2 separate regions of the Homo sapiens genome follow, and region 2 is linked to region 1. Evidence: fine-mapped expression QTL. Tissue or cell type: skeletal muscle. Region 1 holds a variant in brackets; the other region holds the start of a gene. All regions are shown on one strand. Distances are from middle to middle. Region 1 overlaps RIC1 (RIC1 partner of RAB6A GEF complex). Region 2 holds the start of INCR1 (interferon stimulated noncoding RNA 1).

The links. PIP is the estimated chance that this variant, and not a neighbour inherited with it, causes the effect.
Region 2: it holds the start of INCR1, and the variant in region 1 is fine-mapped to the expression of INCR1 in skeletal muscle (GTEx, PIP above 0.99). The same link has a PIP of 0.9 or more in whole blood.

The regions. Positions count from the first base shown.
Region 1 is chr9:5,656,280-5,665,556 of GRCh38, reverse strand. It overlaps RIC1 (RIC1 partner of RAB6A GEF complex), which reads right to left. Exons shown (of 26, transcript NM_020829.4): 2 at 8,867-8,974. Among named protein-coding and RNA genes, the nearest start is that of INCR1, 31 kb to the right of the region's middle. The variant G/C (reference allele first, on the strand shown) is at 3,987.
Region 2 is chr9:5,624,767-5,634,043 of GRCh38, reverse strand. It overlaps INCR1 (interferon stimulated noncoding RNA 1), which reads left to right and starts at 4,317. Exons shown (of 3, transcript XR_007061406.1): 1 at 4,317-4,477. It overlaps RIC1 (RIC1 partner of RAB6A GEF complex), which reads right to left and starts at 4,937. Exons shown (of 26, transcript NM_020829.4): 1 at 4,591-4,937. The coding sequence starts at 4,734. RefSeq lists enhancers at 4,117-4,617, 6,528-6,747 and a silencer at 4,638-5,177.

The DNA.
Region 1 (9,277 bases):
TAATCAATGCAAAAATGCTAAAAACTCAAAAAACCAGAGTGCCTATTCTCCTCCAAATGACCACAACACCTCTCCAGCAAGGGCTCACAACTGGGCTGAGGCTGAGAAAGCTGAATGACAGAAGTAGGCTTTGGAAGGTGGGTAACAACGAACTTCACTGAGCTAAAGGAGCAAGTTTTAACCCAATGCAAAGTAAGAAACATGACAAAACAATACAGGACGTGCCAAGTTCTTAGAGACCTTCAAAGAGACTTAGACTCCCACACAATAATAGTGGGAGACTTTAACACACCACTGACAATGTGAGAGATAAGCAGCCAGTTTAGAGAGGAAGTTAACTGACCTATTAGAGCTGAGAAACACACTACAAGATCAAAAAAGACAAAGGGCATTACATAACAATAAAGGGTTCAATTCAACAAGAAGAGCTAAATGTCCTCAATATATACGCTCCCAATGTAGGAACACCCAGATTCACAAAGCAAGTTCTTAGGGACCTTGAAAGAGACTTAAACTCCCACACAATAATAGTGGGAGACTGGAACACACCACTGACAATACTAGGAGGAGCCAGTTTAGAGAGCAACATAACCGACCTGTTAGAGCTCAGAAACATACTACAAGAACTTCACAATGCAATCACAACTATTAATAGCAGAATAGACCAAGTGGAGAAAAGAATCTCAGAGCTTGAAGACTATCTTGCTGAAATAAGATAAGCGGACAAGAATAGAGAAAAAAGAATGAAAATGAATAAAACCTCTGAGAAATGTGGGATTATGTAAATAAACTGAACCTAAGACTGACTGGGGTACCTGAAAGAGATGGGGAGAATGGAACGAAGTTGGAAAACATATTTCAGGATATCATCCAGGAGAACTTCCCCAACCTAGGAAGACAGGCCAACATTCAAATTCAGGAAATGCAGAAAACCTCAGTAAGATATTCCCTGAGAAGATCAACCCCAAGACATATAATCATCAGATTCTGCAAGGTCAAAATGAAAGAAAAATGTTAAGGGCAGTCAGACAGAAAGACCAGGTCACCTACGAAGGGGAGGCCCATGAGACTAACAATAGACCTCTCAGTGAAAACCCTAAAAGCCAGAAGAGATTGGGGCCAATATTAAACATTCTTTTTTTTTTTTGACAGAGTCTCGCTCCGTTGCCAGGCTGGAGTGCAGTGGTGCAATCTCAGCTCACTGCAACCTCTGCCTTCTGGGTTCAAGCAATTCTCCTGCCTCAGCCTCCTGAGTAGCTGGGACTACAGGTATGCGCCACGACACTCAGCTAATTATTTTTGTATTTTTAGTAGAGATGGGGTTTTTCACAATGTTGGCCAGGATGGTGTCGATCTCTTGACCTCGTTATCCGCCCGCCTTGGCCTCCCAAAGTGCTGGGATTACAGGTGTGAGCCACCACACCTGGCCAATATTAAACATTCTTAAAGTAAAGAATTTCCAACCCAGAATTTCATATCTGGCGAAACTAAGCTTTATAAGCAAAGGAGAAACAAGATCCTGTTCAGACAAGCAAACGCTGAGGGAATTCGTAACCATCAGACCTGCTTTGCAAGAGCTCCTGAAGGAAGCACTAAATATGGAAAGGAAAAACCATTACCAGCCACTACAAAAACACACTGAAGTAAACAGATCAGTGACACTATGAAGGAACCACATAAGTCTGCAAAATAACCAACTAGTATCTTGATGACAGGATCAAATCCACACATAACAATACTAACCTTAAATGTAAATGGGCTAAATGCTCCAATTAAAAGACACAGAATGGCAAGCTAAATAAAGAACCAAGACCCAGCGGTATGCTGTCTTCAAAAGACCCATATCATGTGCAAAGACACACATCCCAAAATAAAGGGATGGAGGAAAATTTACCAAGCAAATGGAAAACAGAAAGAACCACGGACTGCGATCCTAGTTTCTCACAAAACAGACTTTAAATGAAAAAAGATAAAAAAGGCAAAGGGCGTTACATAAAGGGTTCAATTTAATAAGCGCCAAATATCCTCCATATATGCACACACAGTATAGGAACACCCAGATTCCTAAAGCAAGTTCTTAGAGACCTTCAAAAAGACTTAGACTCCCACACAATAATAGTAGCAGACTTAACACACCATTGACAATATTAGGCAGATCACCAAGACAGAAAATTAACAGATATTCATGATCTGAACTTAGCTCTAGATCAAGTGGACCTGACAGATATCTACAGAACTCTCCATCCTAAAACAACAGAAACTAATTGTTCTCATCATCACAAGGCACTTACTCTAAATTTGATCACATAATCGGAAGTAAAACACTCTTCAGCAAATGCAAAAGAACTGAAATGATAACAGTCTCTCAGACCACAACACTCAAAAAAATTCACTCAGAAGAATTAAGAAATTCACTCAAAACCACACAACTACATGGAAATTGAACAGCCTGCTCCTGAGTGACTTGAGTAAATAATGAAATTAAGGCAGAAATCAAGAAGTCCTTTGAAACTAATGAGAACAAAGAGACAATGTACCAGAATCTCTGGGATGCAGCTAAAGCAGTGTTGAGGGAAATTTATAGCACTACATGCCCACATCAAAAAGCTACAAAGATCTCAAGTTAACAACCTAACACCACAACTAAGAGAACTAGAGAAACAAGAACAAACCCAAAAGCTAGCAGAAGACAAGATATAACCAAGATCAGAGCAGAACTGAAGGAGATAGAGACATGAAAGACCATTCAAACGATCAATGAATCCAAGAGCTGGTTATTTAAAAAAATTAATAGAATACATAGACTGCTAGCTAGATTAATAAAGAAGAAAAGAGAAGATTTAAATAAACACAATCAGAAATGATAAAGGGGATATCATCCTGACCCCAAAGAAATACAAACAATCATCAGAGAATACTATAAATGCATCAATGCACATTAAATAGAAAATCTAGAAGAAATGGATACTTTTCTGGACACATACACCCTCCCTAAGACTGAACCAGGAAGAAACTGAATCTCTGAATAGACCAATAATGAGTCCTGAAATTGAGAAGTAATAAAGAGCCTAGCAACCCAAAAAAAAAAACCAGCCCAGGACAGACAGATTCACAGCTGAATTCTACCAGAGGTACAAAGAAGAGCTGGTATTATTTCTACTGAAACTATTCCAAAACAATTGAAAATTAGGGATTCCTCCTTAATTCATTCTATGAGGCCAGCATCATCTTGATACCAAAACCTGGCAGAGACAAAACAAAAAAAAAGAAAACCTCAGGCCAATATGCTTGATGAACATCAATGCAAAAATTCTCAACAAAATACTGGCAAATATCCAGTAGCCCATCAAAAAGTTTATCCATCATGTCCAAGTAGACTTCATCCCCGGAATGCAAGACTGGTTCAACATACACAATTCAATAAATGTGATTCATCACATAAACAGAACTGAACACAAAAACCACATGATTATCTCAATAGATGCGGAAAAGGTCTTTAATAAAATTCAACATCGCTTTAGGTTAAAAACTCTCAATAAACCAGATATTGAAGGAACATACTTCAAAATAATAAGAGTCATATATGACAAACCCACAGCCAATATCATAATGAATGGACAAAAGCTGGAAGCATTCCCCTTGAAAAAAGGCACAAGACAAGGATGCCCTCTCTCACCAGTCCTATTCAACATAGTATTGGCAGTTCTGGCTGGGGCAATCAGGCAAGAGAAAGAAATAAAGGGTATTCAAATAGGAAGAGAGAAAATTAAACTATCTTTGTTTGCAGATGACATGATCCTATATTAGAAAACCCCATTGCCTCAGCCCAAAAGCTTTGTAAGCTGATAAGCAACTTCAGCAAAGTCTAAGGATAGAAAATTAATGTGCAAAAATCATTAGCATTCTTATACATCAACAGGCAAGCAGACAGCCAAATCATGAATGAACTCCCATTCACAGTTGGTCACAAATGAATAAAATACCTA[G/C]CAATACAGCTAACAAGGGAGGTGAAGAACCTCTTCAAGGGGAACTACAAACCAACTTTCAAACAAATGACAGATGACACGAACAAATGGAAAAACATTCCATGTTCATGGCTAGGAAGAGTCAATATTGTGAAAATGGTTATACTACCCAAAGTAATTTATAGATTCAATGCTATCCCCATTAAACTACCACTGACATTCTTCACGGAATTAGAAAAAAGCTATTTTAAAATTCATATGGAACCAACAAAGAGTCCGAATAGCCAAGGCAATCAAAGCAAAAAGAACAAGGCCAGAGGCATCATGCTACCTGACTTAAAACTGTAACACAGGGCTACAGTAACCAAAACAGCATGGTACTGGCACAAGAATAAACACATAGACCAACGTAACAGAATAGAGAACCCAGAAACAAGAACACCCACCTACACCATCTGATCTTAGCAAACCTGACAAACACAAGCAATGGGGAAAGGATTCCCCATGTAATATATGGTGCTGGGAGTACTGGCTAGCTGTATGCAGAAAATTGAAACTGGACCCCTTCCTTACACCCTAAAGGAAAATGAACTCAAGATTGATTAAAGATTTAAATGTAAAACCCAGGAAGAAAATCTAGACAATACCATTTGGGACACAGGCACAGGCAGAGATTTCACGACAAGGATGACAAAAGCAATTGCAACAAAAGCAAAAATTGACAAATGGGATCTAATCGAACTGAAGAGCTTCTGCACAGCAACAGAAACTATCATTGGAGTGAGCAGATAAACAACAGAATGGTAGCAAATTTTTGGAATCTATTAATCTGACAAAGAAAGGTCTAATATCCAGCATCTACAATGAACTTAATAACTTACAAGAAAAAAAAAATCCCATTAAGAAGTGGGCAAAGGACATGAACAGACACTTCTCAAAAGAAGACATAAATGTGGCCAACAAATACATTTTAAAAAGCTCAACATCACTGATTATTAGAGAAATTCAAGTCAAAACCACAATGAGATACCGTCTCACACAAGCCAGAATGGCTATTACTAAAAAGTCAAAAAACAACAGGTGCTGGTTAGGTTGTGGAGAAAAAGGAATGCTTTTACACTGTTGGTAGGAGTGGAAATTAGTTCAACCATTATGGAAGACAGTAGGCAATTCCTCAAAGACCTAGAGGCAGAAATACCGTTTGACCCAATAATCTCATTACTGGGTATACCCCCCAAAATATAAATCATTCTATTACAAACATTCATGCATGCATATATTCACTGCAGCACTATTCACAATAGCAAAGACATGGAATCAACCTGAATGTCCCCCGATGATAGACTGAATAAAAGAAATGTGGTACATATACACGATGGAATACTATGCAGCCACAAAAAGGAACAAGATCATATCCTTTGCAGGGACATGGTTGGAGCTGGAAACCATTATCCTCAGCAAACTAACACAGGAACAGAAAATCAAATACCACATGTTTTCACTTATAAGTGGGAGCTGAATGATGAGAACATATGGACACATGGGGGAAACAACATACACTGGGGTCTGTTAGAGGATGGAGGGGCAGGGCGCAGGATGAGGGAGAGCATCTGGAAGAATAGCTAATGGATGCTGGGCTTAATACCTAGGTGATGGCATAATCTGTGCAAGGAAACCACCATAGCACATGTTTACCTATGCAACAAACCCACACATCCTACACATGTACCCTGAAGTTAAGTTGGAAAAAATCAGATATATGTCTACACACTTGGAATGAACAACTGAAAAGGAAACTTAAAAACAATTCCATTTACAATAGCATCAAAAAGAAATTTAAAACTTAAAAATAAATTTAATGAAGCAGGAAAAAGACTTGCATACTGAACACCAGAAAACACTCCTTACAGAAATTGAAGGTCTAAATAATTGATAAGACATTGCATGTTCATAGGCTGGAAGACTTAAATTAATGCTTCCCAAAGAGAACTACAGATTCAATGCAGTCTCTACCAAATTCCCAATGGTATTTTTTACAGAAATAGAAAACCAGTTCAAACAGTCATATAGCATCTTAGGGACTGGCTCAGAATAGTCAAAACTATAGATGATACTGAACTTATGATGGTTCAACTTACGACATTATGATGGATGTTTGGGGCTGTTAAATTTTTTACTTATGGTATTTTCAACTTACAATGGGTTGACAATGGGTTGACATGACTTATATCCTGAAATACAACAATAAAATTGGAGGATTCCACTTCCTGATTTCAAAAGTTACTACAAAGCCACAGTAATTTAAAAACTGTGGTACTGGAATAAGGACAGACATATATAACAATGAAACAGAATGGAGCATCCAGAAATAACCCCAAATACCAATGGCCAATTGATTTTCAACAAGACTACCAAGACCGTTCAATGGGAAAAGAATAGTTCTTTAACATATTGTACTGTAACATTTAACATAAAGTACAACTTTTTTTGGTAATATACATCCACTAATGAGAATTAGATTCTTTTTGTGGAAATAACCTTTTTGGTAAATTGGGGTTTAAAGTACTTTTCCCTATCATCAAAATTGAGTGCAAATTTTCATCTATTAATGCTGGTCCTTAATGACATTTTACATAATTCATATTTGAAAACATTTTCTAATACAGCAAAAGCTATTTTCCAAAGTTATTTAGTGTCTGTTAAGTGGTAGATGGTGGTCCTTCAAGTAAAGAAAAAAAAAAAAGTCAGTCTCGGTAAAAAAAAAAACAAAAAAACTTTCCAATAAACTTTTATCACTACCCAAGCCATAACAGCTGTGGAGGAGGGCAATTCAAGATATTCCTGCTTCCATCTCTGAAAAAACTTACACTAACCATAGGTTTTAAAAGTCTTATATTTTCACAAACTTTGTAAATCTGTCCAACTAAGTCTTTTGCTGCTCCATGTGGATTTTTACTACTATCAATTAATACAACTTCTTAGATTCTACTTCGGGTTGTACTGAATTAGTATTTTCTCAACTCCTTTGAGAATTTTTTTCATCTGGAATTGTTCTGCAGGTCATTCACAGTAATTCTTAGTCAATTCATACTTCACATGGACCACTGAAATTTACAACTGAGCAGTATTATAACATCTGTCAATTTATCAAAAACTAAGCAAACTTACTTTTACTGCACTTTCATTTTCATATTTTATTTTTGTGAAGGAATTTTGTGGTGAGCTGTTCTGTGCTAAATTTTTTAATTCTTCTAACTTAACCTTCAGTACATTCTGATAAGTGCTTAGTCTAGTGATGTCAGCTTATATTCTTTTGGCATAGCTATAGTGCCATTGAATAATAAATACAATATTTTGCCATCTAATTCAATAATAAAAGAAACCACACTACAGTGTGCTTTAAAAACAAAACAAAGTCTTTTTGTCTTCTTTGGTTCTTTTGACATGAGTATGTACTAGAATAAAAATAATATAAAATGTCACAGAATGGCAATATGTGTACACTTGAAATGTTATGAAGTTACAACTGTGTTACTACACAGTGCATTGAACAGAAGAGCAAAGCAATGAGAGCACCACATACACTTGCTGTAAGAACTTCAATTCAATCTGCTATTGTAGCTTGAAAGAAGTTACAGACAATACATAAATCAGTGAGGATTTTCGTGCCCCAGTAAAATTTTAGTTATGGACACTGAAATTTAAGTATCACATAATTTTCAACTGTAGCAAATATTCTTCTTTGACTTGTTTTGATTATTTAAATATGTAAAAACTATTCTTACATTATGGTCTGTGTACAAACAGGCACCAGGGCATATTTGGTACATGGTCAGTCATCTGCAAACTCCTGCTATAGGAAGCGTAGAACTACTCAGTATTTTTCATCATATGAACATTTCAGACTATTAACCTAGTCAGTGTTATATACAGTATGGACTAGAAAGGGACCAACGCAAAGAGATAAATTAGATATAAGGATATAGTAAATGGAAGCTGAGTAGCTAAGTTTATACCTTATCTCTCTAATATACACTACGCATGTAACCTTGGATAAGACAATTTTTCAGATCCTCAATTTACACATCCATTATGAAGGATAATAATATCTACTTCAAAGCACTTATCTAAAGATTAAATGGGATGATCCATGTAAACTGATTACAATTGTACTCATCGGATAGGAGGTGCTCAATAATGTTAATTAACCACATATATTACTGCTAATGCATATTAAGTCATAATGACAGCCTTAGACAGTGATGAAACATGAACTGAAAAGGTAAAATTAAACATATCTAGGCACGTTTAATAGAACAGAAGAAAAAAAGGAGAAACAGATCCAAATGGATATGGAAATTTTAGTATAACATATGCACATAAAGCTTATTATTTTCTGGAATATCTTTTGGAATGGAAGGGAGGAATTTAAATATAAATTCAAGAATATCATGTGAATATGTTTTAAAAAACTAGATAAGACTTCAAGGACAAAACAGTAAAGTGAGAACAACAAACAGAAAAGGATATAGGTGCTATGTTTAGGGATGGAAGGAAGCAGCAGAGTCAAAACAGAAGCTATAGTAGGAGTAACACGCACAGAATAATTAGTAAAGCAGTTAGACTTCAAGGGCAAAACAGTAAAGTGAGAACAACAAACAGAAAAGGATACAGGTGCTATGTTTAGGGATATAGGTGCTTTGTTAAGGAAGTAGCAGAGTCAGAAGAAAAGCTATAGTAGGAGTAATCCACATAGAATAATCAGTAAAGCAATTCCTATCAGAATAAAATAAATACTTATGAGTGCAAAAGACTGAAAGAAAGTCATCTAAGAGAATCAAATTTAAATGCGATGTAATGATTTCATAAGAAAACACTATTTAGCGGTAAAATCTACTTACTGATACAGCTATCATGGTACTATCTGGCCTCCATTCAGCTTGCTTGTAGGATCCAAACTGAGTAGATGATTTTGCAGGCTCCTTGTAGGTTACAATTAACACACTAGGCTGTGTGATTAAAAAAAAAAAAAAGTTGTATTTTTTATCAATATCTCATAAAAATACACAAATAAAATTTAAGATAACAGAGTATTCAAAGTATTTTTACAGTAAAATAAAAGACAATATTGATATTAAACTATCGGCTTTCAACATTGCAAGCATATCAACCAAAACAAAGACCTAAACCTACGCCTGTATTATTAAAGAAACTGAATTAATAATTAATAATCATCCAAAACAGAAAGAACCAGGACTAAATGTGTTCATAGGTGAAGTCTACCAAACGTTTAAGGGAGAAATTACACCAAT
Region 2 (9,277 bases), 32 kb after region 1:
AACAACATGGACAAAACTTAAGGACAGTATACTAAGTAAGCAAGACAAAAAACAACTTCATGATCTCATATATGGAATATAAAGACGTCAAATTCATAGGAACAGAGAATAGAACGATGATTACCAGGGGCTGGGAGGTGGGTGAAATGGGAGTATTTCAGTCAAAGGTACAAATTTTCAGGTATAAGATGAATACGTTCTGGGGACCTAATGCATGGCCCAGTAACTATCGTTAATAATGACATTTATTTCCATAATTAACATATATTGTATACTTGAAATTTGCTAAGAGAGTAGGTCTTAAGTGTTCTCATCCCACATACAAAAAAAGAGGGAGCTGTGTGAGATGGTGGATCTGTTAATTAGACTGATTGTGATTATCAACTCACAGGGTAGATCTAAGTATCGCACAGCACACCTTAAATATATACAATTTTTATTTGTCAATTATACCTCAACAAAGCTGGCAGTAGTGGGGAAGCAGTAGTTCATCAGAAAAATGAACACTTATGGTTACGGTAGGTAAAGAATGACTCATAAAGAAAGGATTTCAACAGCAGTTAAAGGATAGATAATACTCTGACAGGCAGAAATGAGGCAAGAGAGCATTCCAAGAAGGGAGTGTCTGTGATATCAAACTAAGGAGTTTGAACTCCATTCTTTCATCAACAGTGAACCCTAGAAGACTTCAGAGCAGTGAATTTATAAAGAAGGCTCTCTGGAGAAAGTAATAGAGTTAAAAGGGTGAGAAATGGGAATGCTGGGAAAATACAAATAAAATGGTCTTCCTGAGGTCAACACAGTTAATCACATACCTGATCCAAAGCTTGGTTCTTTTGACATATCATTGTTTTTTTCCATGATTAGCACATACCAATGGGAACTAAGTTTTTGCTCAGGATTACTAAACGACATATAATTTATTTTATAAGCCTAGTAATTATTTGCCCATTTCAGCTTTTTATTAGCTACCTACAACAGTGATATCTCACAAGATTTATATTAACACACTAACATCTAACACACTAACATATAACATGTCTCTTCATCCCTTTTATACACATCTGTCTTTTACAGTTGATGTTCAAAAATACTTCTGAAGCTAATTTAAATGTTTAAAGTCGGTGACCTGAAAAACGAGAATGTCTATACATCTAATTTAGAATGGCTAAATTCAAAGATACCATTCTGATGTTCACATATATAGACTTTCATAGTCACAGTTAGTATATTAAAGGAATAATTCTGGGCCCTCAGTACAGTACAAAATGTAATTCATCTCACACTACACCTACGTCAATCATAAATCATAACCTACCTTATGCAACAGTTTCATCCTCAAAGCTGAAACTAGTCCTTTTACAATAACCTTAGCAGAAATGTACCAACTGCCCCCAGTCAAGTTCTACCTCTACCACCCCAATCTAGCCTACACATACTGAGCCTTTTTTTAACACCATTTGGGGGGCTCCAAAATATAATATTGGGGCTCCAATATAAAAAAGCTAAGTAACTATCTAGAGGCTCTTTTGTTCATAAACAACACTATACTGTATTTCTCAAATTTGGGGTAGGAAATAATTCTGAAGAGATATGAGTCTAAACAGTGGAATTCCGAATACCTACTTAGAATAGAGGACAGTAGGTATAAGTAGTACATAAAAGTTCATTAGAAGACCCATATAATGTACAGTTAGAGATTTTAATAGAGATTCAGTCTTATGAATTATCACTGTACACATACAATTTCCACAATTCTTTTGAACATTGAAACAACCAGCTTAGACTACTAAACGACTGTCCCTTCCACAAGGCTAGTTGTCTCTTTTTAAAATATATCACTCCTAAGAGAGCCTGATTTACTAAGTGAGCCCTAACAAAATTTCAGGTAAGCAAATCTTGTTTTATCATCTCTACGAGCATGTCTCCCTGCCTTCAAATGCCCTCAAGCAGCTGTAAGACTTCAACTCTGTAAAATCCTGTAGATCTTCACATATTATTATAAAACTACTTGTATCTACAGCCTCTCAAAAATCAAAGCTTTTAGCAGCTCCATGAGAACTTTTTAAACCAATTCACTCTAAATTATGGAAGTATAACTGATAGCCCTTTAATTTACCTAAAGGCATTTTCACTTTTAAATGAAGTTTGTTAACCTAATTAACTTACATACTTTCAGGAAGTTTACAAATTAGAAAATCAAAATGAAAACTTTCATACAGAGTAAGAAAGGGCATATCCCAGGAAGAGAAGATTGGAAGCTGGAGTCTAGCATATGTATCCCACTCACCTAGGCATGTAATCATACACCTTATAATCACTTGGTTCAATATTTGATTTTTTTTTTTTTTTTTTTTTGAGACAGAGTCTTGCTCTGTCGCCAGGCTGGAGTGCAGTGGTGGGATCTTGGCTCACTGCAACCTCTGCCTCTTGGGTTCAAGCGATTCTCCTGCCTCAGCCTCCCGAGTAGCTGGGGCTATAGGCGTGCACCACCACGCCCAGCTATTTTTTTGTATTTTTAGTAGAGACGGGATTTCACCATGTTGGCCAGGATGGTCTCGATCTCTTGACCTCGTGAATATCTGATTTTTTTCAGTGACAACAAAGCTGGTGCCCAGAGACCAAGGTTAACCACTCATACTACAGTACTATACAGCCTCCTCTAAGGTATTCCTGCATTTCATTTCACTCCAGACCTCTAAACCCATGGGTTCCCTACAGCCTAACTTTTGCACAACAGAACTTAATAGTAGGGGTCCCTGGACTTCTGTGGAAAAAGGAAGTTGCATGTGAGGTGGGAATTTGAAAGAAGAGTATGAATAGTTTAAATTCCAGAACTGCCTTGGATTTCTAGATGTCGTATGTAACTCCAAAACCAAACAATAGACATGCTTAAGAATATTCACAATGTCCCTAAATTAAAGCATATGTTTATGCTTCTCTTATGGGGGAATAAAGTGGTTTACAGGCTTCTGGTCAATTCATAGGTCATATTGTTTACTTTTATTTAAAATTAAGTTAGGTCTGCCTTTTTAAAGGTAAGAAAAGTTAAATTTTAGACGAAAGTCTAAATTTGTTACATTCAAAAGGAATTATGTATTAAATTCAAAAGACAATTTAAATTCAAGTTCTATTTTTTTCTGCATGTGCTTTAAAGTTGAGTTATATACACCTAAACAAATTAAAAATTATTCAACTGGCATATACATTGTAAACGAATATCTCATTTAGGAACCAGATGATACTTTATATATATTTACACATATGTTTATATATATACACACACACATACATACATATATATTCAAAATACAATCAGGCACTAGACAAAATAGTCATATTGTTGGTATTACGATTTTATAAGTTTGTTTTGTTCTGATTTGCATTTGAAAATTAGATCAGCCAAAACTTGATGGCAAATAGTCTGATTTACAGCCCAACTATGACAGTCAAAGGAGACACCAGAATTACCCGTCACTAAATCCCATCACCAGTATTACCAGGGAAGTGGGTGAGGACTGTCAAGGGCATTACAGGTAATGGAACAGCAACACACAAAGATTTGGGGATTTTAACAAACTAAAACCAGTATTTCACGAACACCTAATAAGGACAAGATCACAACCTATCCCCACATGGTCAAATTAACTTGGAAAGGAGAAAAACTTCACTCTGACATCGATTGGTACTGCCTTCTTTGGGGAGGAAAAAAAGCATTTTTATACTCTGAACTCTGTCGTTCTCATAGACAAAGTTATAGCAGTGTTTGCAGAGAGTAGGGAGTATCCCATCCACCACTTATTTCTTTCTCATATCTACTCAGTAATTCAATACAAGAAAGAAAAAGATAACCAGGACTTAAAGCAAAAACAGAATTCAGTTCCATGCTCCTCCCAAGCCTTATTATTTCCAGGTGTTATAACTGGGAGTTCCGCGGACAGATTTGAGTTCTACTTCCGCTCCTTTAACCCCCTATTCCGAAGAGTCCAAGAGCAGCAGCAAAGAAAAAGACCAACTCGAAAGTGGGGAAGGGATGTTGGGGTTAAAGAGGGGAGTTAAATAACCAGACCTTTAGTGAAGAATAAAGAATTCAGGCTGTAGTTTGTAGAAATAAGTTATTACAGGCCTGTAAAGTCTGGCGCTGGGTAAAGCCCAAGAGGCTTTCCCTAACTCCAAAACGGCGACCTTTAAAGTAAGGGAGGGTTGGGGCACCACAGCGGCCGGATTTCTAATTGTGGAAAGTTTAAACAAATTTGTCCCTCGGGGAATGGGGGAAGGGAGAGAAGAACAAGTCTGGGCTCGGCCGGGGAGCGTGCGGAGTCTGCACGCCGCGGCCGTCGGTCCAACGCGGGGAGGCTCAGGGATTTTCGGCAGCAGCGACTTCATCCACCCCGGACCGCCGGCTGGAGGACGTGCCTGCAGCCGGCGGGTACCTGCGGCCAATTCGGTGGAACGAGGACGCGGACTGCGAAGGCAGGTGGGTCTGGCACGAAGGGGCAGGAGTCCTAGGCTCTGGGTGGAAGTTGGGGGTGGGACGGCGCCGGGAGGCCGGGGAGGCAGCGGCGAAAGGCGGCGGGCGGCTCTACTTACTCGGCTGTACCAGATGCTGAGGCGGGCCGCGGCCAGCACGGCGAAGAAAGCCCTCTGCGGGTCGGACTGAACGTGGAAAGGCGCCTCGGCCGGGCTCCCCAGAGGGCACAGCAGCCTCTTGGGCCAGCCGCTCAGAAAATACATGGTCCGTGCGGAGCCCCCGGCGCCCCCAGTTGCGTCCGTCACACTCAGCGGCCCCGGGCTGGTCGCCCACCTCCCACACCGCCACCGGCCGAGTCGGCGGCGGCGGCGGCGGCAGCTCGGGGCATCTGCCCGCTGGCCTGGCCGGGCCGGGCCGACGCAAGGCTGCGCGACGAAGGCACCCCCAAGCTGACGGGGCCGAGTGTGGGGGAGGGAAGGGGAGGGAGAGTAGGGACACAGAGAGGGCGGGAGGAGCGCGGAGGCCCGCCCCGACCCCGCCCCTTCCTCAGGCCGCGCGGGCGTCACCACGCCGCGCCGCGTGGGTCGGGCCGGGGAGGGCCCGCGCGCGCGCTCTGGAGACTCCTGCGGTCTCCCTAGCTGTTTCTTGAAGCTCTGCATAAGCCTCGCCCGCGGCCGCCGGGTTGCGTCCGCACTTCTGCGCGCTGGCCCCTCCCTTGCTCCTCTCCCTAGCAGTCTCCAGGGTTTTACCGGGAGGACCTAGGCAACGGCCTGAGACTCCGAGGCAAGTGGGGCGAGTCTAGGGATAACGCAGCAGCAAGGCTACTGGGCCGGTGGAACACGCCCTGGCCTGGCCAAATTGGACCTCCCTTCCGGATTGGCGGGGTCTCGGTGGGGGCGGGCCGGTTGCCGGGGGGAGCTGGAGTCACGTGACGGCCGGCGCGGTTTCCCACTTTGGGCTGCCGGCCGCTGTGGCTGTGGTGGGCGGTAGGGGCTTTTACCGTGTGAGCTCCTTTAATGCCGGGGTCTGCAGTGAGAGCTGGTGATGAAGCTCCTGCCGGTGTGGAGCTTACATCCCTAAGGGAGCGTTTATTTAATCAGTAAATAAACCACTCACCATGAAAGTATTGAGTTCTGTCTCCTGCCTTTCAGGAGTTCTAAATCTATGTCTTTGAAATCCATTTCCATTCGTCTCAGCCTTACCAGCCATAACTTTAGATGAGAGGAGGCTATCTCTTTCGTGCTGCAAAAGGCTTGGACTTAGTTTTAGAACTGGAAGGGACTGGTGATAGCGTAGGTCCATATTTAGCTTTTGGACCCCAGGTATCACCTTAGCTGTAACTTTCAACGGATTGACCCAGTGGTAACGTCTGAATAGAAGGAGGGTTGAGGGGATATGGTGTGGAATGGGGGAAGGAGGAGTCTGAAATAGAAGAAAGATTTGCTTCTCATTGTCTACCTTTTTTAGTACAGTTTGAATTTTTCCATATGTTTGTATTACTTTTTCAATTAAAAAGCCAGGTTTAAAAAATGACCCCACATTAAAAAGTAGCAACGTAGGCGGGGTGCTGGGGCTCACGCCTGTAATCCCAGCATTTTGGGAGGCCGAGGCGGGCAGATCACTTTAGGTAAGCAGTTCGAGACCAGCCTGGCCAACATCGTGAAACCCCCGTCTTACTGAAAATACAAAAATTAGCTGGGCGTGGTGGCAGGTGCCTGTAATCCCAGTTCCTCAGGAGGCTAAGGCAGGAGAATCGCTTGAACCTGGGAGGCGGAAGTTGCAGCAAACCAAGATCCCTCCACTGCACTCCAGCCTGGGCAACAGAGTGAGACTGTCTCAAAAAAAAAAAAAAAAGTAGCAACATAAACAGAAAAAAGGAAACAAAGAAACTTAATTCATATTAGATATAGCATTGTAGCTGGTATTCATAACCAAATATGTAACTTTCTGTAATTTTTCTAAACATTCACTGCATTCCCTGGAAGGTGATGATAGAATCCTGTATTCCTCAAATGGAGGTTGAAACTGCCTCACCACTCACCAGCCTGTTGCGATCAGATTGTCTCCTTGGCGTCTACCCTCCCCCAGTCCAACACAGCAGCCTGGAACATAGTAAGCATAGTAAGCTGGCAGTATTTGTCAGACAAACCGTGGAGGAAACCCTGATCCAGCTGAGCTACACCATTAGACAAAGAGGCCCAGAGAGGTTTCTTAACTTGCCAATTTCAAATTGTAGAATAACAAAGTTGCATCATACTTTCATCTTAGATTCAGTTATGCACTTGGCAGAAAGAGGAAATGAAAATGTTCTAGTGCAGCAATTTTGCTGGCAGTGTTACTGAATGTTTGTCCCAGCTGTCTCTCAGAGAGTCTTTGTTCTCATGTGTCTCAAGTTTGTCATACTGTGCTCATGGGCAATTTAAGGAACTTCTAAGCAATTTTTATTGCACTCAATTTTAACCTTACTTGCTGACTTTAGAAGCTTATTCCTCTGCCACACTCCTGTGTAGCACTTAAGATTCACAAAATAATTCCAAATGCTTGTCTTGATTTAATTCATAGTAAACATTCAAGGTGAGTGACATTGGTGTGATGTTGTTATTCTCACTTTCTCAAGTGAGGAAACAGGACAGGTGTGGTAGATGTGCCTGAATTCACATGGCCTGAAAAGAACTGATGTTCTTTCTACAGATCCAGTGTGATTTCTTTCTTTTTTTTTTTTTTTGAGGTGGAGTTTCGCTCTTGTTGCCCAGGCTGGCGTGCAATGGTGCCATCTCAGCTCACTGCAGCCTCCACCTCCTGGGTTCAAGCAATTCTCCTGCCTCAGCCTCTGGAGTAGTTGGGATTACAGGCATGCACCAACATGCCTGGCTAATTTTGTATTTTTAGTAGAGACGAGGTTTCTCCATGTTGGTCAGGCTGATCTGGAACTCCCGACCTCAGGTGATCCGCTCACCTCGGCCTCCCAAAGTGCTGGGATTACAGGCGTGAGCCACCGCACCCAGCCTCCTGTGTGATTTTTTTAAAAATTTAAGGTTTGGCTGGGCGCGGTGGCTCATGCCTGTAATCCCAAAACTTTGGGAAGCCAAGGCAGGCGGATCATGAGGTCGGGAGTTTGAGACCAGCCTGGCCAATATGGTGAAACCCTGTCTTTCTGCTAAAAAAAAAAAAATACAAAAATTAGCCAGGCATGGTGATATGCACCTGTCATCCCAGCTACTCTGGAGGATAAGGCAGGAGAATTGCTTGAACCTGGGAGGCAGAGGTTGCGGTGAGCCGAGATCGCTCCACTGCACTCCAGGCTGGGTAACAGAGTGAGACTTTGTCTCAAAAAAAAAAAAAAAAATTAAGGCTTATGGCATCCCTGCATCAAGTAAGTCTATTGTTGCTGTTTTTCCAACAGCATATGCTCTTTAGGCTGAACTAAATTGTGGTAATTGCTCTGGACAGTGAGAGGGAGTGGGGGAAACCTCTAGGTCTTTCTCCCTGGCGGGGAGAAAAGGAAATATCTGACTCTCCAAAACCCTATACTTGAGAGTTCCCCTATTGTGACAAAAATGTTATTGGCTGGATTTTTCAACATCATTTCTTTTTCTTTCTTTCTTTTTTTTTTTTTTTTTGAGACAGAGCATTGCTTTGTCACCCAGGCTGGAGTGCAGTGGTGCAATCTTGGCTCACTGCAACCTCCGCCTCCCGGGTTCAAGTGATTCTTGTGCCTCAGCCTCCTGAGTAGCTGGGACTACAGGCATGCACCACCACGCCTGTCTAGTTTTTGTATTTTTAGTAGAGATGGGGTTTCATCATGTGCCAGGCTAGTCTCCAACTCCTAGCCTCAAATGATCCACCAGCCTCGGCCTCCCAAAGTGCTGGGATAACAGGTGTGAACCGCCGTGCCTGGCTTCAACTTTCAAATATCATATTTTAACTTTATTTTGTAAAATATACTGACAGTTCTCATGCCTTAGGTCTTCTCCTCCTTTTTCTACTAGTTTCCACCACCACTCCTGTCAAAATTTTTGGACTCTGTTCTAAGATTAAGCTTATGATAAAAGTTAGTAGGGGGCCGGGCAGGGTAATCACGCCTGTAATCCCAGCACTTTCGGAGGCAGAGGTGGGCGGATCACTTGAGCCCGGGAGTTTGAGACCAGCCTGGGCAACATGGTGAAACCCTGTCTCTACAAAAAATCAGTCGGCACTGTGGCATACACCTGTGGTCCCAGCCCCTTAGGCGGCTAAGGCAGGAGAATTGCTTGAGCCTGGGAGGCAGAGGTAATAGTGAGCCAAGATCATGCTATTGCACTCCCACCTGAGTGAAAGGAATGAAATCCTGTCTCAAAAAAAAAAAAAAAAGTTACTAGGTGCATGTTTTCATCTATGAAACTTATAAACTTTTTAAATTACTAGAAATAATGTTGGTAAGAGTACACATAAGAAATGGGGATACATTTATACTCTCTTGATGGAAGTATGATTTGGTGCAATTTTTTTTTTTAATATAAGGTTTGTGGTAACCCTGTGTTGAGTGAGTCTATTGGCACCATTTTTTCTAATAGCATATGCTCACTTCATGGCTCTTATCACATTTTGGTAATTCTTTCAATATTTGAAACTTTTTCATTATTAGTATATCTGTTATGATGATTTGTGGTCAGTGGTCTTTGTTGTAACTATTGTAATTGTTTTGGGGTGTCATGTACCACATCCATGTAAGATGGAGAACTTAAGCGATAAATGTTATGTGTGTTCTGACTGTTCCATCAACTGGCAGTTCCTCTGTCTCTCTCCCTTTCTTTGGGCCTCCCTATC